Linked DNA regions of Homo sapiens: all the other regions are reported to be linked to region 1. The links are microRNA targets in miRTarBase. Many come from high-throughput screens and were not tested one by one. Region 1 holds a microRNA gene; each other region holds the end of a gene's coding sequence.
Evidence for each region. The annotated mature microRNA hsa-miR-3175 reads CGGGGAGAGAACGCAGUGACGU and lies in region 1 at 2,631-2,652, shown strand. An mRNA with a match to its seed (bases 2 to 7 or 8) in the 3' UTR can be bound and repressed. Matches are read on the target gene's strand: a 7mer-m8 pairs with bases 2 to 8, a 7mer-A1 pairs with bases 2 to 7 and ends in A, and an 8mer does both.

Region 1 (7,119 bases):
TATGAATGAAAAAATGTACATTTAAAAACAAAATCACTTAAAGGACCCTTTGACTGATGCCTCTCAGTTTATATTTTTATGTGACTTTATATTTCTTTTGATACACTTGACATTTTAGGAAATTTTGATGTGATTTATCAAAACCTTTACTTGATGGTTAGAGTTCCTGCATTTATGAAATCAAATCTGTAATAACAGAAATCCTGGAATACTCTTAATATATACTTCTATTTTGTGTTTGTTACTGTGATTAATATTTGCAGTTGTATATTTTACATTTAAATTATTTTAAGGTTTGCATTTGTATGCTTAAGACATTGATTTCCTGTTGGTAGATGTATTTTATCCTCACAATTTAGATGTAGCTGCTTTAAATTTATTGATGTATTTCGACAGAGTCGTCTGGAATGCTTTATCTTCTGAAGCTTAAAAATGTACTGTTTGTGCAAATCATGATCTGTTTCACATTCCTTGGAGTACCTTGTTAGTGATGAAGTAATAAAGCCTCTAAGATGTTTTTGTTGTATGACCTCTGTATATTAATTTTTAAAAGTACATATGAATGCATTTTTTGATGTGTTCTTTATGCATTTTCATATTATAAATTTTAAATCATGCAGTTTAACAAGGATGTGATTCATTATGTGGTTTTCCTTCCCAATTTTTACTTTTCTAATTTTTATAAATAATACACTTTTCTATTAGGCTAGTGAATTTGAAAGTTTTGAACATGATGTGTTACTAATATGCTGAATTCTATTTATTTTATTTGACTGAAAGCATATTGAGCCTTGCTTTAGAAAATAAGTTACCAAATTTTTTTGCATTGAGTTGTCACCCAGTTTGTAGTGCTGTCTTAATTGAATTGCCCATGTAAATTACTAGATTAAATTGAGGACAGAAAAGTTTTTTACTCATCCTAAGCTGTTTTTTTCTGGAAAGTAATGACAATTTGAAGAAATGAGAACCTCCAGATATATTTGGCAAATTATTAAAGATTCAGCACTAAAATTGTTGCTCCCTTGAGTGTATCATTTGCATAGGTCTCACATGGGTTTTGGCTCTCTTATGCAAGGTTTGTGGTTAACATCATTGATCAGACTGTGCTTTCTAATTCTAAAAAATTGAGCAGTGTTGGTATTCTTTCAGTATTTTTACTCTCACCTGGAAAACTACCTGGAAGTTGTCAGGCATTTGCTTACTGGTAGTGGAGGTTACAGCTGTACATGAAGCATGTACTGACTGTACTTTTAAATTGGTTTGTCAAGTATACTTTGAATCATATACCTGATGGATGTCCAAAAATATTTAAGACTCTTTGAAAAGAAGATAGTTACTTTTAAATTAGTTACCCTAAATTTCATATCTTAATACATGTACATAATTATGACATCACTTCCTTTTAAAATGTGCAGCTGTAGAATGTTAGTGGTGTTTTAATGTGGTAGATTAATATTACTTCTACTGAGCTGAACTGTCCCTGTAATTAGTACTTGGTTCCTTCTGCCATCAGAGTTTTTATTGCCCAAAGTATAGTGTTTAGGGAATACTACGAAAATCACCTTTGCAGCCTGAGCCACAGAAGAGGAAATGAGTTTGCAGGTCAAGTAAACTTTGGTCTGAGAATTACTTTAGTATCTGGAAAGAATGAGTGCAAGTTTAGGTAAATCTGGTAATACCCTGTTTTTGGAAATAGTGCAGTAGTTAATAGTGGTTATATAAGTTTGTATTTTAATTTGAAGTTAATGCTAAAGTCTGTTATACTTTATCACGATTTTTGAAAATTAAAAACTTTAAAAAACGCGATTTTAAAAACATTTGATTGATATTTGTAAAATTTCTAAGTATTTAAAACAAAGTTCTAATGATGGACATACGAGAAGTATACCATACTTTTTATCTGAATAATTTGCAGCTTGGGGATAACTTAAGTAACATCAAAGAATGAAAACGGGACTGTGTGCACACAAAGAGTTCAGTGTGTTCTCCACGGCACCACGTTAGCAATTTATCTTAAGAATTGAACGAGTTTATTAAATTTATCTCCAAATCGTCTGCCTTTGAGCCAGATTTATTTTTATAACCTGAGGTGCGGGTAAATCCTACAATTTTCAGGGGCGCTTTACCAGATATTCTAAAAGGCTGGGGATGATTAGAAATGGCATAATGCAGTTACTTGTGTACTAGAACAGGCAGTTTAACTGGCAGCCATTTTATGACGCTGATAATACATTAAAAAACGGGATTTTGGAGAAGACTGAATCTAAACTAATAGAAATCTGAAATACCAAAGCCTATTTCCTTCCCCCTCTCTGCTCTTCTGGGGAACTCTGGTGCCGACATAAAAGGCAGTTCGATAGGGCACGCAGCAGCTCTTTGAGCCCCTGGCATCTTGATGCAGGTCCAGCTCAGTCACAAAATGGCTGTTCCTTTGTGCCGCAGCGCTGACAGACATACTGCATTGCACTGTGTACTCGCCAAACAGCAGGAAGTTGCCGTGCCGAGTTCAAAGGCCGGCCGGCGCCGGCGCGGGGTGCTGATTGGCTGTGCGCGCGCCTGGTAACAGCAGGGTCAACGGCGGCGCCTTCGGCAGCCTCCGCCCCGTGACGTCAGACGGCTCCCCTGGGGGGCGGGGAGAGAACGCAGTGACGTCTGGCCGCGTGCGCATGTCGGGCGCTTTCTCCTCCCCCTACCCAGGGAGCCGCACGCCGAGGGGAAAAGGAAGGGAACTCTAGTTGGGACTTTCCGGTGGGCGGCTTCTTTCCTGGACGCGTTTGCTCCTGGCAGTCTTGTCCGCCCTTGCCTGTAGCGGTCCGCACCCTGTAGTGTGTTCTTTTGCCCATTTCCGGGAATGGTTTATCCTCTTTGAGAAGCGGCTGCTTTTGGAGAAAAAGTGCAGGCACTATTTATAAATTTTAAAGGCACTATTTGGAAATCTTAAAATAGAAAATTTGCCCAGTTTTACATTTTCCCTTTTCATACCTTAGCGTCCCTTCTCCCCGCCCCCGTTCAGTGTGAAGAGATGAGTGGGTTTAATTTTGTTACAATTGACCAAAACGTTTGAGTGTCAGAGGCGGATACTTTTATTTTAGTGAAAACCTCTTGACGGGTGTTAACAGCTGTTTAATACATGGCTCATAAACAAAGGGAAGATTATTTGAACTTGTCCCCATGCGTTTTTACTTGGTACCGTACATTTTCTCAGTTGGCATTTGATGGAGAAAAACTCAGGTCAGTATGTGCTAAGTACTATATATTTAAGATTCACAGTGGGATAGTTTAGTAGAAAATAGAAAATTTCACGTTCAATAACATTAAAAAGTGGCAGAATACAGCGTTAGGCAACCATTACTATGTAAGTAAATGTCAGAAAACTACTCTTTTAAGTGTTAATAGCACTTGCTAATGCAGGGTGACTGACAGCTTGGCTGATAGTGGGGTCACTTGGCCAAATCTTCGCAATTATCTTCCCTAGGCCTCCATTTCGGGAATTCTGAGTCCCGGTAAACGGTTGGGTTTATGCTCACTGATTTGCCTTGTTTGGAAACCTTTACAAGGATTTCTGGTTAAAACTTCATCGTTCAGCAACGATGTCTTAATAATTAAATTACACATACTGAATTTAAGCAAGCAAGAAATTCAGTGGATTTATCTACTGTGGACAAAGTTTTTTTCCTGCCATACTAGAGTTTTTTTAGCAGTTGGAGTAGGCTGTCCTGTAGTTAGCCATAGTTTAGAGTTATTTTAGTAAAGTGTGTTACTTCAAAGGAGATGTTGACCCTTCAGTGCAGGTGATATTTGCTTGGGCGTATGTCAAGTTTCTGAATACAGTCTGTGAAAGTTAGAATTCACTATGATAGTGAGTTTTGTAGGTTCTCATAATCTAGGTTCTTTGGGAAGAATTATTTGGATAGTTTGTGAAAACTAGCTGAAATTGCTTTTTCTGTTACAGAGAAGTGTTCATCAAATAATTTGTACCTGATTTTAAAATTATATGCTCAAATGTATATTGCGTATAAAATGCTAACAGAGAATTAAGTGTTTATAGAACTTGATGAACGTTTAACTGTAGCTTCCAACTTAAAGTATACCTGCCACAAGAACGAAAGTAATAATCTCACCTCCCTTTTTGTGTAGAGACTGAATTCTAATTAGTTGTGTTAATAGTATTTGCTGAATACCTTTCAATTCCTAAAACTGGGGTCAAAGTAGTCAACATTGCAGTTAATTATTTTTGAAGAGGATATGAACTATTCTGTTATTTAAGATATTTTAACCTAAATACCATTATGAGTTAAAATGCATACCATGATATAACAATTTACCTATTAACTGTTGACAATCTTGCAGCCAATTAAGTTTTTTATAGAACCAGTGTTCTTAGGTATGTTTGTTGAGCCTTCTACTTTTTTTCCCTTTGATGTGGGGAATAGCATCAAGCAGCAAGAAAAGAGTGTTGATCGATTTCTCTCTCTTTCTCTCTCTCTCTCTGTATCCTTGCCGTTTAAAATATGCACTTTCCAACTAGTATTTGGCCGTTAGGGAGTTAGTATCTTTGTAAAGATTAAGTCAGCAGAGGAAGGTGGGCAAATAATATTTTTGATAAAGACTTTTGGTTGTGACAGTTGTAGCAAGTTATTGCTTGAGGAGTGAATCTGGAAGTTTATTTGAATTTTAACTAAAACTCACAGATTTTATCATTAGTTTACTCTCCCTTACCCCCAAATAAAACAACTGACAGTTATGAGAGACCTCCTGAGACCACCTGGTATTTCCAAACTCCTATCATTTCTCCCATAAAATTTGATACACTAAGTTTGTTTCTGGTATAAAAATTGAGTGACTGCTCTGTGTCAGCCATTAAATTTTTTCTTGCTATGAGCCATCTTTTTTTTTTTTTTTTTTTTAAGATCCTTTAGTTTTTAGCTGCTTCTTGGTAACCTTAGAACTTTGCTTCCTTGAAGAACTTGGCTTTCTTGATATGGTGTCACTTGAACAAAGAAACTTAAAAAAAAATTCCTCTAAGAGTATTTTGTGTACAGGTGAAAGTAACTTTGTGGCTTGGTTACACTGGGTGTGTCACAGCTGAGTAACTCCCTCCTGCACTTCAGCTTGACTAAGCGTTGAGTTCACATGTATACCTTTGCAAAGCTGCCATTCACAACTTGTTTTGGAACTTTAGGGTTATCAGTATAAAGCCTGAGTAACAAAACTTAGTCATCCAATGTCCAGGCTGGATTGTATTTTTATTTTGTGATCAGTAATTCAGCACAATGCTGGAACACATTACTCACATTTGTCTTATGACCCTTTTCTGTAATCAATGGAATCTTTAATTGATAAAGCAAGTCTAGGGGGAGAGACATTTTTTAAAAAAAGCTCCTATATACTGAATATATTTGAGCCCTGATTATGAAGTGAGGGACAAGGCTTTTCTTTTTGAAATAAATGATGGAGGACATAGATATGTGGTAGCCATTCATGCTACATAATTTAGCATTTTATTGTTAATATGTTTGGTTATGGGTCTTCTTGTTTGGTATTTCAACATGTTCTGGACTGGATATCATACTGAAAAGTATTTCAGTTCTCATTACTGAGTCCCTGTAGTTTGGGGAAAATGTGATCACTGATCTTGAAGGAGAGAATGTTTCAGAAGCATCCGGCTAAGGCAGGATTGTAGAGATAGTCTTGATTTTATACTTTGGATTTAATTCTGATGAGTCATTTTGTCACTTGTGTATGCTTAACTGTTACCTCTGTGCCTGGCAAGAGCTAGGTATGAGTTCAGCTTTTACTTTAGTCCTGAAAATTTTTGTTCCCAGTTTAGGCCAGTGAAGAAGCACTTATGATTGGACTTGTAATTTTCTCATTTTAAAAATGTAGATAATGGTCATCTTCATTGGGTCATGAAGATTAAATAATATAGTGCCCATAAAATGCTTAGCAAAGAGCCCATCACATTAAAAGTGCTCAATAAATGTAAGCTTTTAGTAAGGTTATTTTATTCTTACTGTTTGTTTCATCTTACTTTCTTGCACCCCTCCTTCATATCCTAAGTTCTTCTTCAGGAGCTAGGTTGGCCCTGAGGAACTCGCTGGTTGTCTTGGCCTACCAGGAGAGTTTGTTTAGGCCAGTTACAGGAGAGATTTGTGAGAATGATTTTAGGAGGCAAGTCCTCATTTAGTCAGCTTGGGTGCGTTTTACAGTTCATCCTCTCTTAGAATTTTTTTTTTTTTTTTTTTTTTTTGAGAAGAGCCAGCCTTTTGAGAGAGCATATGACTCTTCCTGGACTACAACAGCTTCTTGTGTGAATCACAGCCCGGCTTTTGCCAGTTAGTCTGAGTAGATAACTACCCACCCCCACTCCCCCAAGCTGATAATTATTACCCTGGTTTATCCTCTGTCTCATTTCCCCTCTCAAGCTGTTAGAGAATGAATACTGAATACTGTGGTGCACTGCTCCATGGATATAAATGTAACAGCAGTAATATTTACAACCAATGTCTAATTGGCTGTAGCTTGCTTTCAGTGTTCAGTCTAAACCATAGGACTATATATTTGTCTTAGCATAATGCCGAACATGCAAGTCTGCTTAAACTATAGTCTTAAGATTTGTGTGTTTTGGGTTTCCTCTACTTCCTCTATTTCCTGTCTTTTTTGGGTTATAGGTCAGATGGGTTCTACTTTTTATTCCCATTTCAGACTGTGGAGAGCTTCTAAAAATACCAGTGTCCATCCCTGCCCCTAGGATCTAGTTAATTTTTAAAAGCTCTCTGTGTTTCAAATTTGCATGTGTTTCTGTATGTTTGCAGTATCTCCGTGTGTTTTCAAATCTTCTGATGGAGCACTTCGTGTACTTTAACCCTTGGTCTTTCCATTGCCTGTCCCATTTTTAAATTCCCTTTTTAGTCTTAATAGCTGCTTGAGTTAGGACCTCTGGAAGCAAAAGTGGGATAGGATGCTGACGGGGAATTGTAGGCTTGATGGAAGAGGATGTTTCTATATTAAATGTCATGGCAGATCCAGTTCTAGGCATACCTTTAAAATGTATACACAGGCTGGGCGTGGTAGCTCACTCCTGTAATCCCAGCAGTTTGGGAGGCCCAGGCAGGCGGA
Region 2 (7,119 bases), not on the chromosome of region 1:
CTGGAGGGCTCACTCCTAAAAGTAGTCCAAGCTCTGTTGCAGAGCCTGACCCCAGGAGCCCAAGCCCGGGGGTTCCGTGGGATCTTCCCATGATTCCCTCCCTGCCCAAGCCCATAGCACCAACGTGAAGAGAGAACTAGGTCTTGTCCCAGAGGGGCTGGCAGCAGGGAGGGATGTGGGGGGCTTGGGGTGCTGAGTGCCCTGGGTAGGGGGGATCATGGTGCTGCCCCGGGGAGCGACCCTCTGATGCCCTGTGGCCCCTAGAAGGTGATGCACACCCGGAAACGGCATTCAGAACTCTACCACGAGCTCAACCAGAAGTTCCACACTTTCGACCGCTACCGCAGCCAGTCCACGGCCAAGGTGAGGGCTCCTCCCGTGGCTGCCCCTGCCCTGAAGCTCAGGGCCTGACCTGGTGCAGTGGCCCCTGGGGTTGGAGCCTGACCGGTGGCCCCCGTTGCAGAGGGAGAAGCGGTGGAGTGTGTCCTCGGGTGGGGCAGCCGAGCGGAGCGTGTGCACCGTGAGTCCCCCCGGGCTGGGTGGGGTGAGGTGGGCCTGAGGGACCCGTGCCCTCCCTGCCCTCCTGCCCCTCCCAGGCAACCCCAGCCTGTCTCACCAAGGGCCTCCCCCACGGCATGGGCAACAGTCTGGGGCCGCCTGGGGGTGGGGAAGGTGCTGCAGATGGCGAACAGGGGTGGAGGTCCTCCAGGATTGGGAGGGAGAGTGGTCAGCAGGAGACATGTCCTGGGGGCCACTGAGAACAGGGGTCAGGAGCCCCACCCTGGAACCAGGCAGGTCTGTATTTGAATTCTGCTTGACACCTGATTGCTCCATAACTTTGGGCATTACCAGCCCTCTCTGGGACTCCTCAGTTTGATCGTCTGTACAATGGGTAAGGATATTGGCCCATCTCCACGGCCCCTCCCGCTCCCTCCACAGGATAAGCCCAGCCCTGGGGAGCGCCCCAGCTTGTCCCAACATCGGCGCCATCAGAGCTGGAGCACCTTCAAATCTATGACACTGGGCTCGCTGCCCCCCAAGCCCCGAGAACGGCTGACTCTGCACCGGGCAGCAGCCTGGGAGCCCACAGAACCACCGGATGGTGACTTCCAGACAGAGGTGTGAGTGCCACGCTGGACTGCCCACTGCATATAAATATATATATCTCTCTATTTTCACACTCCACTTTGGAACTACCCAGGAGCCAGCGCCCTCTCCCCTCTCCCGAGGGCTGGGCAGGGAGGCGCCGTGGACTCAGCCAGGCTGGGGGAGCCGGACATGGCTTGGCCTGGGGTCCCAGGGCCCTTCCTTGTTTCTCAGAGGCCCCTCAGCCACTGGAACCCCATCTTCAGCCCAGCCTGTCCGTCCCTGTCCCGGGCTGGGGAGGGGGGAGGGGAACTTTGTTGGGAATAAACTTCACTCTGTGGATTTTGCTGCTGAGCTGTTTGCTTCCCTCAGGTAAAGGCCCAGCTCTGGGACCCCGACTTTGTTTCTGTCTCCTGGGTTGAACTCACTTGATCTCATCAGATGATGTGATGGGGTCAGTCCAGCCCTGCCTGGGAGGGGGCGGCCTAGGCTCTGACCCCATCTTTGTCCCTGACTCTCTGGGTGATTCATCCTTTCCCCGATCTGGGCTGTGGGAAGCAGATTGGGAGTGTGGGAGGGGACCTCTTATGGCTGGCTTTTCCTGGTGGCTGTGATGGTCGTGGCTGCCATTCACTGGGGCACAGAGGCCAGACTTCCTGGGCTAGAGCCAAGACAGAGCTTAGTGACCTTGGTTTCACATCTGTGAAATGGGGATGGTAACAGTGCCCACCTCACAGGGTTGTTACAGGGATGAAACAAATTCCTATTTGTAAAGTGTTCAGCAAATACCTGGGACAGGATAAGCTCTTGAAGGGTTAGCTGTGACCATGTGGCACCAGTCTCATGCAGTGCTCTAAGCTAGGAGCTTCACACACATATCCCCTGGCCCCTCACAACAACCCTGTTGGAAGGTTTTAGGTTGCCCATTTTGTGGATAGGAAAATGAGGCCAGAGATGGGCAGTGCCCGGCTCAAGGCCACAGTCAGAGGCAGAGCTGGGACTTCAAACCCACGCTTGATGGAGGTGGGGCTTCAGCTCAGCTTCCTGGAACTTGACCATGGCTGCAGGGGAGCCGCAGATGCTGGGTTGTGGTGGAGATGCAGGTGTTGGACCGGGCCAGGGCTGGGGTGGGGTGTGGGAGCCAGGCTGGCTTGGTGCCAGGGGCTGGAGGCTTGTACTGAGTTGCATTCATTACATGCCTGAGTGAGCGGATCCTTGCTCAGTTTTCAGGCCCCCAGAAAGAGGGGGCACAGGATTACATCTGGAAACATATTCTGGAGTCAGGCAGCAGCTGGAGCAGAGGCACGGTTAGCAGGGTCACAGGTCCTTCTTGCCTGGTCATTTAGCAACATGGGCACCTCTGGGCCCCTTCCCAGGGACTCGGAGACACAGACAGGTCCCTGGAGAGCTGAGGGAGGGTTAGGTGCTGCAGCAGCCTGGGTGGGAGTGACAGAAGTGACTGGCTGCTGGGGTAGGGGGTATCACAGATAATGGCCTGCCCAGGGGTGCTGGAGGAGGGGCGGAGGCCTCTTCAGAGTTTTGCAGGCCTTGATGGCACAGGCTTGCTCTGGTCTCATTCCAATCCTGCCTGCTGTGAGACCTGGTCAGAGGAGCCGTGCGGGCAGAGTCCACTCAGGACTGTGCTTCTAGACCCTTGGAGCTCCTGCGACTCACTCCTCCGCCTCCCTCCCTTCGGGCAGCCCCAGCACTTAAGTGTACACAGAGTTCACTCAAGCACTACCTCATTTGATTCTTCAAGGTAGGTATTGTGACTGCCCCATTTTGGAGATGAGTAAATCGAGGCTTGGAGAGGGGACATGACTTTCCCAAGCTCCCACAGCTCAGCTTGTGACTGGGACTTGTGGCTGGGAGTGGCAGAATCCGATACCAGCCAGCTTAGGCACCTGGGAGCTTTGTTCACCCAGGAGCGCGCTGCCGCAAGGACAGCAGTGGGCAAGTGCGGCTGGCCTTCGTGATGGGACCCGGGATCAGGAGTGCCACCGCATGTTTCATCCTCTCCTGGCATTCTCTCGAATGTGTGTCGGCTTCATTCTTTAAGGCCTCTTCCCCCTGGGCCTGCCAGGCTTCCTCCTCCCAGCTCGATCACTCAGCATTGCCCCTAGAGGGGAAGAAACTTTCTCTCTTGAATTCCAATTAGAAAACCCCCAAGGAAGGAAGAGCTCTGGCTGGCCCCAGGAAGGAGGCTGGGGCACTGTGATTGGCAGTCCCATCAGGAACCATGGGGGAGAGGGAGAGGGAGGAGAGGGAGCAGGTCTCTGAGAAAGGGGGGCCTGTTCCTAAAAGGGGGTTTGCACAAACAAAGCCCGACCATGTACCAGCAGATCCTACTCCACATTCCTTCCTCTGACCATCACCTAAAGGCCCTCTTAATGCCTTGTCCTGTGCTCGCACCTCCCTCCTTCCTGGTCTTAGGCTCCGCTGGTCACCACCTCTGGGGCCCTCTGGGGCTGAGGTGTGATGTGCACGTCCCTGCCCTCCTGTCCATTCTTGCTTTGCATCTGGTTGAAGAGGAAGTTTAGTATTTACCTTGTTGATTCTGCTCAAACACAAACCACAGCTACCTGCAGAGGCCTCTGCTGGCTTTGAGACCAGCCACTTAGCTTTCCTGGGGTGGGGGCTTTGTCCCTCCCTTGCCCTCAGTCCCTGCTCCCCCAGGCACTGACTTGCTGCGTGACCTTGGACAGGCCACTGGACCCTGTCTGACATGGGTTTCCCTATCTGTAAAATGAGTTGGCTCGATCTCCCTTCCATTTGAGCTAATATCTAACAACCTGTCATTTCTTTCCTGGACTCAAATTTCTCACATCATTGCCCTCATTTTCTCTGCCTCCAGTCTCCAGCCCTTCATCCACATGGCCCAAGTGATCTTTCCAAAATGCAGATCTGGCCAGGCCACTGCTCAGATGCCTTCTGTGGATCCTGGAATTAGCCTAGAGTTCAAGGCCCTTGGTGATGTGGCCCTTGCCTCCCTCCTCTGGCCCATCTCTCTGACCTCCATGCCTGTGCATGCACCACTCCTTCTGCCTGAAACTCCCTCCTCCTCACAGAGGGGAAACTCTCCTTCAGCCTTCCAGACCCAGCCCAAGTAGCCCCCTGTGTGATGCTGTCCCTGAACTCCCTGGCCCAGCAGTCAGCACTCGCTGGGCCCCCACAGGCCTTGGCATGCACTGTCACTACTGCACTGATCACACAGAACTGCTGTCATCTGTGTTGGCCTTGCTGTGGTTTGTGCACTCAGAGGCCCACATGAAGCAGGCATCAGTGAATCTTTAGCGGGTGAAGGGTGGAATACACAAATCTCCCTGAACATTGATTTCCTCATCTGCAAAATTGGGATAATGACAACTCCTACCCAGTCTTCCTCACTGGATATCCGGAGCATGACTTAAGATGATTCATGGGAAGCATTTTATAGGTGTTAATCTACTCCTCCCACAGTTATTCCTTCCTCAACCCCAAGTGGGAAGCCAGCCCTGGCTGCTGTCCAGGGTGCTGAAAGGGACTTGTCTTCACCCAAAGGATGAGGAGACAAGACTGAGAGGCCCGCCCGCACAAGCTCAGCTGCAGCCTTTTCTTGCTTTCCAGACTGGCAGGGTCAAGGATGAGCAGACCATCCCTACCTTCATGAGAACAGACCCTGGGAGATGTCTAATAAAAATACAATGTAAACGACATATGTAATTTAGAATTTTCTAGTAACCATTCTTTAAAAGTTTGAAAAGGTGAAATTCATTTTAATAATATATCTCATTCAATATATTAAAAAACGATCATTTCAACATATAATCAATATAAAAAATGACTGAGATATTTAACATTCTTTTTTTATACGGAGTCTTGGAAATCTCGTGTGTGTTTTATACATACAGTGCTACAGTGCATCTCAAGTCAGTCTCACCACCTTCTGACTGCTCAGTACTCCCGTGAGGCTACCATGTCGGACAGCACAGCTCTAGGCAGAACAAAGGCAGTGACCTTGAGCAAGTGAACTCAGTGCCCTCTGTGAAAAGGAGGTACTTCCGCACAGCCTGCCTCATGGGGCCATGGAGAGGGCTTGAGGAGGTGATGGAGGGAAAGTTGCCAGCACAGTGCCCGCACAAGGGAGGTCCAAAGCCAGGGTTCCTGGGCTCCACATATCCTGGGGATACTGGTGGGTAGGGAGGAGGTGTTGGGGAAGTAGGGGAAGGTCCTGAGGAGACCTGTGGACTGGTATCAGGCCTCCCTCAGCAGCACTAGGGGAAGGGGTCACCCTTACCCTCACCCTTACCCTTACCCCTGCAGCCCTAGACTCTGGGAGAAGGGAAGCAAGTTGAGGCTAGACTGGAACAGACACGTTAAAACTTAATTGGGCTTAAATCACTTCCATTAGGCACCAATTAAAAGGAAATTAGGTGGCCTGAGGGAGGACCTGGGTGCGGGATGCTGCTGACTTCTGCTTCTCAGGACTCATTTCCCTTCAGGCTTCTTCATGCCCACCCTGGCACCTCATGGGGTCCCCCAGTTGGGGCTTTTCTAATCCAGTCCCCAGTACCCATCATATTCCTCCCTCCACTCCTCCAAGGCCACTGACTCTGGGAAGACTTCCACCCTCTCAGGCCCTCAAAACACATGCTAAGTGTCTAAGGCAGAGGAGACTCCACTGAGGGTTTTGGCCTTTAAGGAGAGTGGGAAGCTAAGGAAGAGTGTTGAGCAGAGTACTGGCATGATCAGATTTCTATATCAACACGATTTCTCTTGAGTGGATGGAAAATGGATTGGTGGGGGCAGGGACACTGAAGAGTGAGGGTGGAGAGAGAGACCAGCAAGGAGATGATCTGCATGAAGGAGACTTTAGAGGGTGCTATGGAGGAGGAATGGAGTTTCTATATATGTAGTGGGTAGAATTGTCAGCACTCAGCTCCTGGTGTGGATTGGGTATCAGAGAGGAGCCAAGGATGACACCTGGGCTTCTGTCTTACACACCTGGATGGATGACCGTGTCATTGGCATAGAGGTACAGGAAGAGGACCAGCTTTGGGGGAGACAGTCATTAATTTGGCCTTGGGCATTGTCTTAGTCCATTTTGTGCTGCTATAACAATACCTGAGACTGGGTCATTTATAAAGAACAGAGATTCATTCATTGCAGTTCTGGAGGCTGGGAAGTCCAAGGTTGTGGGGCTGTCATCTGGCAAGGTCTTTTTTGCTGCATCATCTTATGGCAGAAGGCAGAAGGGTGAGAGAGAGAGCAAGAGATTGAATTCAAAGACTCAAGCTCTTTTATAATCAGTGTTAATCCATTCATGAGGGCGGTGCCCTCATGATCTAAACACACACCCCCCATTGACCCCATCTCCCAACACTGTTGCACTGGGGATTAAGTTTCCAACACATGCTTTTTGGGGGACACATTCAAACCATAGCAGGCATGTCAACTTTGAGATGGTCAAGGGGAGATGTCAAGTGGAAAGTAGGTAGTTGAACACACAGGGCTGGAACTCAGAATGAGGGGCTGGGCTGGAGTCATTACTATGGGAGGAACCAGCACTGAGGTGGGTTGTAGAGTAGGGTGGGAGGTGAATAAATCAAGGGACTAGAGACAGTTCTTAAAGTGGAGCTTTGAAAAGAGGGAGACTCCCTTTGTTCAGGACAGGTGAAAAAAAAGAGAAAAGAGGGAGAGAAAGCTCAGGGCTTACTGTAGTCTCTGAAGGTGAGTTAGCTGGAGAGGATGATGGGAGATTTCCATGAACAGAGAGGCTGTCCCTACCTCCTCTCCAAGATCCTACATAATGATCAGAAATAACCAGCCCTACCGCCTTGGGAGGCCGGGTCCTGAGACCCAGTAATGGTTATCATCACAGAGATTGATTCTGCTCATTTGTTGCACTTCAGGTTAGCCACAGTTCCTGGAGGTGGGAATGGGGTTGGGGGGACACTCAACAAGGCCTGGACTCCAAGACCTTCGGGACGGATGGGACTCTGGACTCCATGGGGAAGGTGGAGAAGCAGGCACGGTGCTCCGGGCTCCCTGAAG
Region 3 (7,119 bases), not on the chromosome of region 1:
CTGTCCCACATCATCAGTGGCATTAAGCACAAGAGATACCATCTTAGCACAATCCTTTTACTCTAAATGTTCAGGGGAGGGGTATAGCAGCAAGGAGAGGGGGTCTCTGTGATGGCCCAAGGAGGTATTTTTGATACTGAAGACCCAGGCCCCCAGGGGAACTGCAGGAAGCGTCTAGCTCATAGGCATAGGCCTTTCAGTAAAGGTCACCCATCCAGGGATCCAGGATGTAGCTGGTTCCAGGTGATGAAATCTTCCCACCTTATGACTGGGGAATGTCAGGTCTAGTAGCAAAGCAAAGAGACCCCAGATGGCAAAAAAAAAAAAAAAAAAAAGAGCTGTGGCCAAAGTTCCCCCCTTGTTTGTATTAAGGGGCTTCCGTAGCCCATAGAGCTCTGGGTTCCTCACAGTGAGTGGAGTGGGGTGTGAGGCAGCCAGTGAGCTTCCAAGCCTCCCTCCCTGGCTGTGGGACCCTAAGTAGCCCAGAGCAGGGTAGGGTTGGAGGGAAGATCCAGTCCCCATGCTCTCTGTTTCAGGCTGGGCCTGGCAGGGCTGCCTATCCCTGTAACTTGGGGTGAGAGGGAGGCAGGACCTACAGTGCCCTTTTGCCCTATCCTTAGCGACCGGGACACACAGCTGGCACGGCTGATGCGGCGGAACAGCCTGAACCGCAAGGACGCAGAGGCCCGCATCAATGCCCAGCTGCCCCTGACAGACAAGGCCCGCATGGCCCGCCATGTCCTAGACAACTCGGGCGAGTGGAGTGTCACCAAACGCCAGGTCATCCTCTTGCACACTGAGCTGGAGCGCTCCCTGGAGTACCTGCCGCTGAGGTTTGGGGTCCTCACAGGGCTCGCTGCCATTGCCAGCCTCCTCTACCTGCTCACCCACTACCTTCTGCCTTACGCCTAGTGGGGCACTCAAGGCAGGGAGCCCCAGGCCTCCATCTATCTCCTTGGAGGCTGAAGCCAGGTAACACATCCTGTTTCCTCTCAGCCCCCTCCCCACACACACACACACACACACACACACACACACACACACACACACACACACACGGACTCTCCGAATCAGGGCTGGGCCTCTGTGCCAGGCCATCCCGTCTTTGGAGTGTATCCTATTTGAGATCAAGAAATAGCCTGCTGTCCTTCCCACCTTCCCTGAGCAGCACCTACAGAACAGCAACCGTGATGGTGTGTGAAAGCAACAGTCAGAGACTGCTATACATTTCTGTGGGTGGGGGTAGGGAATACTGGCTCTGTGGCCCTCCTCAGAGCTGGGAGGCCAAGGGTTCACTGGGCTTGAATCCTCTCTAAGCACCTACCCCATTGTGGCCTAAACCTCCTCAGTGGACCACGGGAAATCATGTTGGACCAAGGGTTTCCATGTTCAAACAGTCAACAAGGCCCTCCCCTAGGTTGAGATATTTTTTATACTGAAGGCCCAGGCCCCCCAGTATGGCTTGCTGCCAGCAAGCAGCAAGGATTCTCTCGTGGGTAACGCTGTAGCCAGGCAGGACCAGCCTCTTCTGGGAGACCCCTCTCCCCACGTAGGGTTTGTGTAGTGCTCCCACATCCTGCTTATTGCCTGCCACCCCTGCTTCTCGCCTGGACCTCTTGGTATTCCGTGTACACCATCCTTGCTGTTTCTTGCCTCTGTGCCTTCAACCTGCTGCTCCTGGCCTGGGATACCTTTTATTTTCTTTTATTTCTTCTTCCTTTTTTTTTTTTTTTTTTTTTTTAACCTACAACTAGCTCTCAGTTCAGGCACTGTCTAAAGCCCCAGGCTGGGTTAGGTGGTCTAGGATACCAACTCCCCCTCAACATTTTACCTTAATCCAACAGTACAGTAATTAGCCGAAACTTGCCTGGTTTTTCCTACTAGACTGTAAGCCCTCTAGGGACAGGGACAGTGTCTTATTCATCTCTGTGTTCTTAGTGCAGAGCCTGGCCCGCTGTTGGTGTTTAATAAAGTGTGTTGATCTGAAATGCCCCAGACCAACCAAGATTCCCAGACTTGGCTTCTTCCCACACTGGGCTGGAGTCCTCCCGGAGCTCAGGGGGAGGTGAGGGCCCCAGAAGGTGCACTTGCCATCAGGCTTCTCCCTGGGTCCCAGGAGGACTGCAGCCAGGCCCGAGGCACCTTTGTGGGAGGTGGGTAGAGGGCTGAGGCAGCGTCACACCTTCTTGCCCCGCCTCCCCATCTGCCTTCCCCAACCCAATTAGACCAGCGCAGACATAAGCCTTCCCTGCCAGGGCCTGCAGACTTGCTGATGTGTTGATCCTGCAGCCAGAAGCCTATTAAGGCTAGAAATGAGTGTGACGGATGCAAATGCTGTGGTGGCCATACTTAGTGCCCCCTTTCCCAGAGCCGCTTGTGCTGAGTCTAGCTCATTAACTTGCTGCAAACCCCTAAGGGGCAAAGAAGGGCCGGGTAAGGCAGTGGTGGGCTGCCAGGTGGGTGGCCAGGCAGGATGAGGGTGGCAGGAGCCTGCCACTTCCTCGGTTTGGTGCGATCCGCCAGGACGGAGAAAGGAGAGGGAAGGTATGGACCCCCACAGTGCCCTATCACCCCAATAATTGAGGAAATGGCACTTCCTAGTATCGGCAGCATGCCAGGCACTGCTGGATGTGTAAGACCCTATAGTTAACATAACACTGATTATTTCCATCCCAGGCTCAGAAAGATGGATTTGGTCCAGGTTGCAGAGCCAGGCTTCTGAACTCTCTCCTGTGCCCTGAGCCTCTTGTCAGGAGGAGCTGGAGCCTGGGGTTGGGCCTTGGGCTCGCATTCCGGCTCCGCTTGCCATGTGACCTCCTGCCTTTAGTTTCTACTCATACATCGTTAGGCTTCATAGTGGAGGACACTGAAAACCCTTAGCAAACTGTAAAGTTCCAGAGAATTAACCTTCCCTGACCCAGTGAGCTGGGTTTGAAGCAGGAATGTCAGAGCATGGCAGGTGTGGAGAAACCTCGAATTCAGCCCTGCCCTGCCCGGGCCTCGCCAGAGCTCCCTCTCCAGCTCCTCTTGCCTCCCTGCCCCAGGATCCCCTTCCCGGCCTTGGGGGTCCAAGGCGGCCTTAAAAGAAGGACTACTTTCTCCGAAGGGGACTTGAAGTTGAGGCCGCTCAGCAACTGCAGAGGTCGGGCCTCCGGGACCCAGGCCCGCGCCCGAGCCGGCGGCCTGCCGTTCGGCCGGCAGGTGGCAGCACCCTCCCGGGCTGGGCCGGGCCTCCGCGGCGGGCGCTCGCCGAGCGGCCTAATCTTCCTCCTCCCAGGCCGCGGGCGGCCTCAGACTCCTGCCGAGCAGCTGCCGCGGGAGCACGGGCCAGGTGGGCGCGGAGGCTCTGCCTGACCCTGAGCGCTAACTCAAAAGGTGCGTTGTTCGCCCACGTCCTCTGAGCCTGGGCTGCGGGCCCTGGGTGCCAAAGGGCGTGTCCCCTGCCCACCCACCGCGACGGCGACGGGACCCTGCAGCCTCCGCGTTCCGTTCCCTCACTTTGGGCCTTAGCACCCGGAGCGGAGCAATAAGACACCAGCGAGGGTGAAGACGCACACGCCTTCTGGGCGGGGGACGAAGGGCGCAGGCAGGCCTCTAAAACACCCCCACCCCCAGGCCCGACTGGCCCGAAGGTCATTCGCAGTTTCACAGTTTACAAAGCACGTTCCAGTTATCCCCTTGAAATCTCCCAGCTGTGTGAGGCAGACAGGTCCAGAATTTTACAGAGGCTCAGAGGTTGAGCCAAGGGGCCTAAGTAGCCAACAGGTATAACCACCAAGCTTCTTGACTCCCAGTACAGTGCTCCTCCGGCTATCTGCACTGCCCCCATTATACACTTTGGCTCTTTAGTAATTGACAACTCTTCTTCAAATGTTCATTCTCTCTCTCTCCTCATGGGGGGCAGGGCAGAGGCAGGGAAAGGTTTAGGACCTTCCATGATGAGCCTCCATGGCTAGAAATTGAATGGGAGCAGGATAGGCGCGCTGCTGAGCGCCCCTAGTTCTCACCAAGGCACTTTAGGTCAGAAGGAAACAGTCTCAGAGCAGGAGGGGGAATGCGATGGCAGTGATGACTTCAGGCCATGGGGTCATATAGGAGTGGGCAGGGAGACCCCCGGACATGGTGGGAGAGAAGGAGCAAAAGGAAGGAGGTGATGTGGTGCTATAGGTTGCTTTCCTGCTCCTTCCAGGAGAGACGTGGCTGGTGGTTCCTCATCCCACCTGCAGAGCTGAGGCTGCACCCAGCTGGGACCCAAACCGCCTCTCTTTGCTCCCCACCTTCCCCTCCGCTCCCAGTCACTTAGATTCCAATACAATTTCCAGCTAACCAGCATGTCGATAGAACAAGTCGGGCGGCCGGATTGCTGGCCAATTACAGGAAATCATTCTGCTCCACAGCTCAGCGCTCAGGAAGGGAGAGGGAGGGAGGGAATTCAAGGGAGCAGGCGCCCAGCTTACAGGCTGGGAACGGGCTTCAGGCAGAAGGCTGGGAGTGCTGCAGCCCCCCACCCCTGAGGGGTGGGGGGTGGGGGAGGCTCCTAGGGGCAGGCCAGCCCTAGGCTCATCCTCAGCCTCATGCGGAGCTCTGGATCCAACTTCTGTGTGATGGGGAGATTGGTGCCCCAAGCCACTAAGAGAGACAGAGCTGGGAGTTGAGTGTGGTTGAGGGTCCGGCAAGCGAGGCATCTTAGTGTCAAAAGGGATAGAAGCCGAGATAGCAGGACCACCCTCTCCCAGAGCCCTATGCACCAAGGAGTGGGCATCTGAGGGCCTGGAGGCTAGGGTCCACACAAGCAAGACCTGTGCTCTAACAGCCCGCTGTGGGCCACGGGGTACCTAGGAGGACAGGGGAAGGGGTCGACAGGGAGCGGGAAGGAAAGGGGCCACAGCCCACAGCTGAGTGAACTAGCAGCAGCCTCATCTGGTGAAGGAGTAAGTCTTCCACCCTGGAAGGTGGGGCACAGAAATGTGGGAAAGGCCAAGGGCCCCCTCCCTCACCTTCCTAGCTCCTCTGCCTCAGCTCCTGCCTCTGGCCCTCAAGAAAATTTCACTCAGATGAAAGGACCCCAGCTCCCCTCCTCTTTCCTTGGATCTGAATCTACCTCTGCCTTCTATGCCGACCTGGATGCCTCTTTGCCAGCCCCACCTCCTCCCATCACATCTCTCCCAGAACTGTTCCTGTGCCCCAGGCTGCCCTACCCGGCTGACCAGAGATGCTCTGCCTGTCGCACAGTGGTGAGCTCTTCTTCCCAGCCCTTCCCCTCTACCCTCAAAGGACTGGAAGATTCTTGAGGAAGAGAAACTTCCCTGTGGGCTAACTTCACCCAGTGAATGACTATTGTTGCTGTTTGTCTTGAACCCCAAAAAAGGCAACTGTGACCCAATGATCTCCTCCTCTGCTCCAAGCTGTGGCCACCTCCCAGGACCCCTCTCCAAACCCCCAGGATCTCACTACTCTTCTCCCAATTCCAAGCCCTCCCCTTCAGACCCCTCCAAGGTTGGGTCCTGGGATGGATTCACTGGCAGCTCTTTTGCCAACCCAAGAGTAAAGGGGTGGACAGACATGGAAGAGGAGACTGGCTTTGGAGCCCAGTGCACCCAGCACCCAGTGGCGCTCAGGAAAGACCTGAGTGATTGCACCGAACAACAAGGTCATCTTCAAAGTTTGTTTGGAGAGGTGCATAGGGAGAACAGGGTCAGCGCCCCGCGACGTCTCCTTCCCCGGGTTTTCTAGCCTAGTACACAGGCTCACACTCCGCGGTGGAGGTGTTGGGGTTGGCCCTGTGTGTGACCCCCGCTTGGCACACGGTGGCCACCCCTCCGCTCAGCTGAGCTGAGCTAAAGCCGCGGCTCCCGGGCTCCTAGCACCGCCTCCGCCATCCCACCCTCGGGCGCTGCCTCCCGCGGGCCGGGCGCCCGGTGCTCGGCGATCCGGAAGAGGGCGCCCGCCCGGCCCACGTCCGCCGTGTCCCCGCCCGGCGCGCCGCGCTCGCCAGCCCGCGGGCTCCGCGCCATCGATCGGGCCGCAGGGACCCGGGTGAGCCGCCTCCCCACCCCTCGCTTTTCGCTTTTAATTGAAGTTTGTTTGAGCAGAGCGCGGAGCGGGCAAAGGCAGAAACCAAATATTTAGTTGCTGCAAATTGGCACCTCCAGATCAATTACCCGGCCAGTGTCAGGGCCCTCGCCGCCCCCCGCGCCCCGCAGAATCTCAATGCCACGCTGCCCCCGCCCGGGCCGCCCGCGCCGCCCTCGCCGCCCTCGCCGCCCTCCTCCATTACACTGCACGTTTTTCATCAGCTCCAGCCAGACATCACCCGTGGCCGCGAGGGAACAGATTTTCAATGGGAAAAGTTCCCCGGGAGGGTCCTTGTTGCTGATTCCCGCCGCGCCCTGCGCTGTCTGGCCCCTGCCCCCACCTGGCTTGTCTGACGGAGACAGCAGATGGGTGGAGCGAGCTCAAAGCAAGGACTTGGGGTCAGGAAGACCAGGCCCCGTCATAGGAACTCCCCTTACCCGCTGGGTGACCTTGGGGAAGTTACTTATGCTCCCTGAGCCTCGGAGTCCCCCATAACATGGGGGCTCAACCTTCACCTTGTGGGGTCAACAGCATGGAGGGACAGCACCCTGCCCAGGGCTGGCACACAGTGACTTTCCACAGATATTAGTTCTCACCCTGCTAGGGGTTAAAACAGGCTCTAGAATGAAATGAGAGACAGTGAGTTCGAGGCGACTCAACCAAGCCACTGAAAAATACCAAAGGGAAAGCAGCAGACAGCCAGCATCCCCAGAGTCTCTGGCAGGGGCTGGACAGGCCCCAGGACCCTGGTCAAGCTCCATCAGGGAAAGTCCTGACCCCCAGCCCAAGTGCATCTGGGCACAACCAAAAGAGAAGCCGCTTTTCCAGTACCAGGGGTGGAGAATGAGAGAGCCATGATCCCAAGGCCACAGCCAGGCAAGGAGGCCGGAGGGATCTGAAAAAGGTCACCAAGGGCTCCTGACCCTTGCCAAGCTGAGTACCAGGAGGCCAGCCTTGTGGCAGGGGGGAATCAGGACAGCTGGGCTGTAGTTGAGGCTTTGCCTTCTCCTGGCTACATGTTGCTAGTCAAGTACTTAACTTCAA
Region 4 (7,119 bases), not on the chromosome of region 1:
GTGATCACACCACTGTACTCCAGCCTAGGCAACAGAGTGAGACCCTGTCTAAAATTAAATTCTAGGTGATAAATGGAGACTGCCTTCTCTTCAACCTACAGATCTTCAATTGGTTAGCTTTTTCAAATGATCTGCTTGAGAATATGGGGAAATATAATTACAATGGACAATTAAATATTACAAACTCTATGAAGAACTAGAAAAAATTGGACTAAAATATATTTAATAAACAATAAGTAATCCTGTGAGCCCAAGCAAACTGTCCGTACTATGATGGTGTATATCTTTTCAGGAATAGCCCACCTAATCAATAGCACATGACCATTTATGAGTGAAAGGACTTTTAACAATCTAGGCAGGGTAGGTGTAGTGGCTCACGCCTGTAATCCCAGGCCTTCGGGGGACCGAGTCAGGAGGATACCTAAGAACCCAGGAGTTCAAGACAGGTGTGGGCAACTTAGTGAGGCCACATCTCTATTTAAATACACATGCACACGATTAAAAAAAAAAAAAATACAAACTAGCCAGGCATGGTAGCACATGACTGTAGTCCCAGCTACTTAGGAGGCTGAGTTGGGAGGATCGTTTGAGCCCAGGATTTGGAGGTTGCAGTGACCTAAGGTCCTGCCATTGCACTTCAGCCTGGGTGACAGAGCAAGACCCCGTCTCAAAAAATAAATAACAAAATGAGCTGTTGCTTCTGTAATCCTAGCACTATGGGAGGCTGAGGCAGGACGATTGTCTTAGGCCAAGAGTTCAAGTCCAGCCTGGGCAACATAGCAAAACCCTGTCTCTACAAAAAAAACTTAAAAAAAAAAATAAGCTGGGTGTAGTCCCAGCTACTTTGGAGACTGAGGTGGGAGGATCACTTGAGCCCAGAAGTTCAAGGCTGCAGTGAGCTATGATTGTGCCACTGTTCTTTGGCCTGGGTGACAGAGACTGTATCTCAAAATAAATTTAAAAATGAGCCATGTTTAATATCTAATTTTTAAAAAAAACCAAAAGGATCAATAATGTTTAAATTTAAATATTAGCCTTTTAGTAGAACTATTTGTCTGATGCATCTTTTTTTATTTCTAGCTGTATTCTGATTTATCTTTTTTTAAGTTTGTTTGTCGTGCAGGCTGGAGTGCGGTGGCATGATCTCGGCTTGCTGCAACCTCTGCTTCCCGGGTTCAACCAATTCTGTGCCTTAGCCTCCCAAGTAGCTGGGATTACAGGCAACTGCCACCACGCTCAGCTAATTTTTGTATTTTTAGTAGAGATGGGGTTTCACCATCTTGGCCAGGCTGGTCTCAAACTCCTGACCTCGTGATCCACCCGCCTTGGCCTCCCAAAGTGCTGCGATTACAAGGGTGAGCCACCACGCCTGGCCAGAGACCAGGAGTTTGAGACCAGCCTGGGCAACATAGGGTACCCCATCTCTACAAAAATTAAAAAATTAAGGCGTGGTGGCGGGCGCCTGTAATCCAGGCTACTCAGGAGGCTGAGGCAGGAGAATGGCGTGAACCTGGGAGGCGGAGTTTGCAGTGAGCGGAGATCGCGCCACTGCACTCCAGCCTAGGAGACAGAGTGAGACTCTGTCTCCAAAAAAAATAAAAATAAAAATAAAAAAATAAAAAATTAGCTGGGCATGGTGGCAGGTACCTGTAGTCCCAACTACTCGGGAGGCTGAGGTGGGAAGGTAGGAGGACTGCTTGAGCCGAGAAGGTTAAGGCTGCTGTGAGCTATGATCACGCCACCGAACTCCAGCCTGGGTGACAGAGTGAGACCCTGTCTTAAAAAAGAAAAAAAAAAAAGCAAAATTCTAAGAAAAACACAAGATCTACAGTCATGAAAAAGGTTTACCATTTACCACTTAAGTACTTGAAAAGTACCACACTAAAAAACATAGTAAACATAGCTGGTTTTAAAGTAATGACTTTATTAATAAATATACATCCATATGATGATGTAGATACAAATCATGAACACTACTCCATTCCCATACACATAATTGCACACGAGTAGCTCAAGTTCATGGACATAAAAACATACACAGTATCTATTCAGACTTTTTACAGCAGAGGACAGCGTGCTTATTATCAGTTAATTGGTAATTATTTTCTCCAAAATTACCTGTGGAAAAAAGAAATTCTGAAAACTTAAAAGAATCAAAGTGATCTGATTACTTTAAATCACACACTTGATTTACTATATAGCATTAAATTTTCCAAAAATTAAATACATTACATGTGAGAGCACAGATTTATATATTTGGAGGAGGGGGGAAAAAAGGAAAGATTCAGATACATCCTAGAGTTTAACAGCATACAGTTAAGCTGTAATAAAAACAAAAATAGAATAGCATCAAAATTTTTTATGTCCAAGGAAAAAAATCTTTTGAAAAACTGTTTTGAATTCTTTATATTCCTATAAAGGGACCATAAAATTTTACTGCATATAGAGACAATGACCGACAGAGTAGCAGTTATCAATAACCCCTGAATTGTTCTTTTAAAGCTTCTTAGAATATAAAGGAGAAATTTACTTTTTTTTTTCTTTAGCTCACACACTATGGTTATTTTTACACTGAATGGGTCAACTTTAACCTAATAAATGGACCCACATATATATTTTTTTCTCCTCAACTCAAAGAAACTCTATTCTTAGTTCATGAAAATAGACATGTAAATTCACACAAACATCAGTTTGGAATCAATATTACTTTGACAGATGTTTCTTTAAAAAGTAAATAAAAAATATAAAGAATTTTTAGTCTAATTAAAACATTGATTTTTTAAAATGTCCCTAAATATTAAAAATTAAACCAGATACTACTCATTTTCTTCCAATACATTGTGCCAATATATTTTTTAATATCCAATGCAAAACTCTAAAGATAGTATCAAAATCACCCTAAATACTACTTATGCAAGGTTATATCTGTCAAAAAATGAAAATTTCATCTGTTATTAGCTCATTTGCTAATATAATAAATAAGGCATGTTAAAGTACTTTTTAAAGAAAAAAGTAATGCAGACTTACTTGAATTGCAGATCATTTTCTGACCAACAGTTTAAATATAGAATAATGAAACCTATTTTGTGAAGAACAGAATTACACTGTATAAAATTAGCAATTTACCTTTCAAGAAACAATCATACAGTGGGGGAGAAAAGGCCAGTTTTCCCCAACTGATTATATTAAAGTATAGGCAACTGTTTAACATGCTATTTCAGTGTTTATCATAACAAGAGACAGTGTTAACAAAATATGCACAATGTAGTCTTTAGTTTATATAGCAGTAAAAATACTTTAAATTTTAAGACTTCATTCATGTTATCACTTAGATGTCTTTCTCTTCAGCATGGCACCGGTAAACTGTTCACAGGGAGAAAAGTAAGTGGAATCAGGAGATGCTCACCAGTGCATAGATATAATACTCCAGGTAACCGCTCAGATGAACAGTAAATTCGGCTTTCTAAATGATGTTATCCATTTACAACTGTAGCCATTTGCCCCTCCCATTTTTTTTTCCTGGGACATAGCTGCTGATAATAAACACTGTTATGAACATGCCTCCTTTAGTTGATCTCACCATTTCATAAACATGTATACAAAATTCATTATACAATAATACACCTGTTTTATCTTCTGACACACAGCACAGCACCAGTAAGTAGATGTGCTGGAGGGTAGAGGAAGAGGAATGAATGTACGAAAGGCAGGGGAGAAAGGGAAGGGTATGTATAACAAAATAAGGAAGGAAAATAAACTGAAAGGGAAATAAATGTCAAATGGACTTACTATAAAACACAATAATCAAATCTTTGACAATGGTGTGCATTATTCTATGGTAGAACATTAAACAAATGTCTTTAGAAACTGGCTTGAAAAAGATTTCTAAGCAGCCAACTGCTGAACATCATCTTGAGAAACAGCTAAATGACAGATACATGTACAGAGTAGGTAACGAACATATGAATAAAGAGGCAAGCATTTGTGTGTGTCAGAAGTTATACTGTTCTGAGTAAATTATTAAAAATCTTGTATTTTAAGCTTTTGCAAGAAAAAGCTCTTGTAGCAATTTAGCTGCCAGAATGTTATAACTGATTATGTAACCATCCAACATCGTTCTCTATGGTTTGTGCAAAGCTAATATTGTTGAGGTCACTGTCTTAGACGCCAGTGCACATAGTCCCCACATACAATGCAACACCTCTTACTGTAAAGAGCAGCATAAAGTCCAGCTCAATTGTGTCAGGCATCACTGGAACACCTGAAGGCTTGCTGCTTTTTTCCTGATAAAAAAGGTATGAAACATGACATCCATTTGCAATCAGAGTTTGCATTAATAGCAAGCCCAAAAAACACAACATGTGCTCTTTTAAAATTTTAATTATTTTAAAAGTTTTTGGGTCCTGCAATTCTACATTTTAATCTCAAAGGCATTTAAAATCCCAAATACAAACATTGTAACTTTAAAGTTAAGTGGAATTTTTTCAAGTCTGAAGTTTATAATATTTTATTTAGAACAAACTCAATAAATAAAATGTGTAACAAGAAGTATTACTTTCAGAAAGGAAAGAAGAAAGATTTCCCTCTGTCCCTACTATACATATCTACCTAATACTTTTTTTCCTTTCTATCTTGCTTCTAAAGCAAACATCATTGGGGGAAAAAAAATCTTTTGGATGAGATGGTCTCACTGGACCCACAATAAGATTTTTAATTAAACTAACCAACATATTTTTTACATGTTTCATGCATAGATGGATTCCTATATGCTTCTTAATATTTGGGTTCTGATGGTCGGGAAACTGCATTCTGTTTATACCAGTTTTACAGTCTACCATTCAATTTGTGTCCTTTGGTAGATATCAACCTGAAAACACAGTAAGTGCTAATGCAATGGGACAATTTCTGAGAAAAACTAAAAACGTTCCAAATAAATGAGCAACATCAATAAATGGTTTTATTTATTTATTTATTTATTTATTTATTTATTTATTTATTTGAGACGGAGTCTTACTCTGTCACCCAGGCTGGAGTGCAGTGGCACAATCTTGGCTCACTGCAACCTCCGCCTCCTGGATTTAAGCAATTCTCCTGCCTCAGCCTCCCCAGTAGCTTGGATTACAGGCGCCCGCCACCACGCCTGGCTAATTTTTATATTTTTAGTAGAGATGGGGTTTCACCATGTTGGCCAGGCTAGTCTTGAACTGCTGACCTCAAGTGATCCGCCTGCCTCGGCCTCCCAAAGTGCTGGGTGTGAGCCACCACACCCAGCCAATAAATGTTTTTAAACATAATACTTTAAAACTTTCTATATGAAAGGCAAAATATAGTGACTATAGCTACATGCAAACCTAGAGAATGCTTCTTTTTCTATTATATGAAATATGCTATCCTCAGAATGCACTATATTTCACCAAAAATGTAATGTGCAGTTTTTATAAAATAGTTTAAATTTTCTGTAAATATGAATTGTTTGTAGTGTTTGGTATATATGCTCTTAGGCAATTAAAAAATACACAACCTATCACTGCTCAAAGGCAAACACTGAAGAATTATTTCAGGTATAATGGTTAAATCAATTAATGCCATGTAGATCAATAAATTACAAGCTGCTTAAACCTAAAACATTAAAAATAAGTTTTTTAACATTTGAAGTGGATGTAAATGCCAAAGCATACAAATATGTGTCCCATCTTGTGAAAATAAATGTTACAAAAACTCACACAGCCATTACCTCAAGTAATCCTGATTCATTAGTTTGCTTTTTTGCTCCATCAGTTAAAAATACGTTAGTGTCTTTATTATACTGTAGGCTTACTTCACAAACTAATAGGTATAATGGTTTCAGTTGTTTATCACATAAAGCATCTATTTAGAACAGCCCCAAAGTAGTAATGAAACATGAGACATGACCATAACTCTAAAGGAAAAGGAAAAATGATTTAGTTAGGTGTTACACTTGAACCTATGTACAAATACAATGCCGCTGCTCATGCCCTGAGTGCATCTGTCAGCATATGGCAGTTTTTGAGCAAAAGCAGGAAAAAAACCAAACAGGAAAACAAATTTGGAAAGCCCAGGCCATAAAATTATGTATATCAAAATAAAACCAAGAAGCTTTGGGATTATTCACAATCTTCCTTCTAAACCTGGCCCTCTTTTCCTGCCTCATTCACTCATTGGGTGGTTTGACTTCACTGCTAGTTTCCTCTACCCCATGAACTGCTCTGCCATGCATCATAGGGTAAGGAAAAGCAGCAGTGCCACAGCCATAACCAAGATCGGCAAGACGGGATAGAGCTTTAATGCTACCTGGAGGTCTGCCTGGGCTGACTTTGTATCCCGCAGCTTTAGTTGTCCCCAAAGGTCTGCCTGGACTTGTCTTAAATCCAGCTGCTTTGGTGGTTCCCAGGGGTCTGCCTGTGCTGGTCCGGTATCCTGCTGATTTGGTGGTTCCCGAAGGCCGGCCACGCTTACCAGATCGGTTGAGATTCTTCTTTTTCTTTAGTTCATCTTTTATTTCTATGCTTCTGCCACTTGTAGTCTGCAAGTGTGTTTCATTTAATGGGTCTTGCCTCTGACAAACCATTGGTTTGTGGTTGACTGTGTGGCTGTATTTGCTTTGCTGGGAGGAATATATGTCAAACTGATCAGCAGCTCTCATGGCATCTTCATTGAGGCAGGAAGGCTTGCCAGGCCCACAGAAAGCTGGATTACTGCTGGCAACAGGATGCATCATTTTCTACCAAAAATAAAAGACAAATATATATAAATACACACACACAAATACATACCTGTATGCAGCATTCAGTGAGAAAACAGTCTGTCTTCCAACAACTATGCAGGCTACATAAAATTAGGCTAACAGGCAGGACTCCAGACCACTTATAAACAAACACACATCAGCAGATTCAAGGACACTTCTTCTCAATTTAATCATGGGACAAACATCATACAAGATAACTCTATTATAATACTGATTTCATAGCTATAATGCTCTCCAATTAGGAACCAGAAAAGTGTGTAAGTCAAAAACAAATGTTCTATTCTGTGGGCTTTTCTCTTCTAGATTACTAAACCTCAAAAGAATAATAGTAAAGCCAAGAACTCTTATTAACA

Region 2: the mRNA of ADGRB2 is a reported target of hsa-miR-3175. Seed matches in the 3' UTR shown: 7mer-m8 at 1,214-1,220.
Region 3: miRTarBase lists DCAKD as a target of hsa-miR-3175. Seed matches in the 3' UTR shown: 7mer-A1 at 1,001-1,007 and 8mer at 1,541-1,548.
Region 4: miRTarBase lists C5orf24 as a target of hsa-miR-3175. Seed matches in the 3' UTR shown: 7mer-m8 at 3,710-3,716 and 7mer-m8 at 3,151-3,157.

The regions. Positions count from the first base shown.
Region 1 is chr15:92,901,778-92,908,896 of GRCh38, forward strand. MIR3175 (microRNA 3175) reads left to right here and starts at 2,622; the gene lies at 2,622-2,698. All of the region lies in intron 2 of CHD2 (chromodomain helicase DNA binding protein 2), which reads left to right. RefSeq lists enhancers at 2,155-3,354, 2,216-2,395, 2,676-2,915 and a silencer at 2,466-2,515.
Region 2 is chr1:31,721,426-31,728,544 of GRCh38, reverse strand. It overlaps ADGRB2 (adhesion G protein-coupled receptor B2), which reads left to right. Exons shown (of 33, transcript NM_001364857.2): 31 at 265-363; 32 at 464-520; 33 at 940-1,428. The coding sequence ends at 1,125. Among named protein-coding and RNA genes, the nearest start is that of COL16A1, 21 kb to the right of the region's middle. RefSeq lists a silencer at 4,490-4,690 and an enhancer at 4,236-4,737.
Region 3 is chr17:45,018,226-45,025,344 of GRCh38, reverse strand. It overlaps DCAKD (dephospho-CoA kinase domain containing), which reads left to right. Exons shown (of 5, transcript NM_001288655.2): 5 at 621-2,001. The coding sequence ends at 912. Among named protein-coding and RNA genes, the nearest start is that of DCAKD, 30 kb to the left of the region's middle. RefSeq lists silencers at 2,964-3,313, 5,794-5,973, 5,830-6,079 and an enhancer at 6,590-6,719.
Region 4 is chr5:134,854,521-134,861,639 of GRCh38, reverse strand. C5orf24 (chromosome 5 open reading frame 24) reads right to left here. Exons shown (of 2, transcript NM_001135586.1): 2 at 1,905-6,742. The coding sequence starts at 6,739. The coding sequence ends at 6,173. Among named protein-coding and RNA genes, the nearest start is that of C5orf24, 12 kb to the right of the region's middle.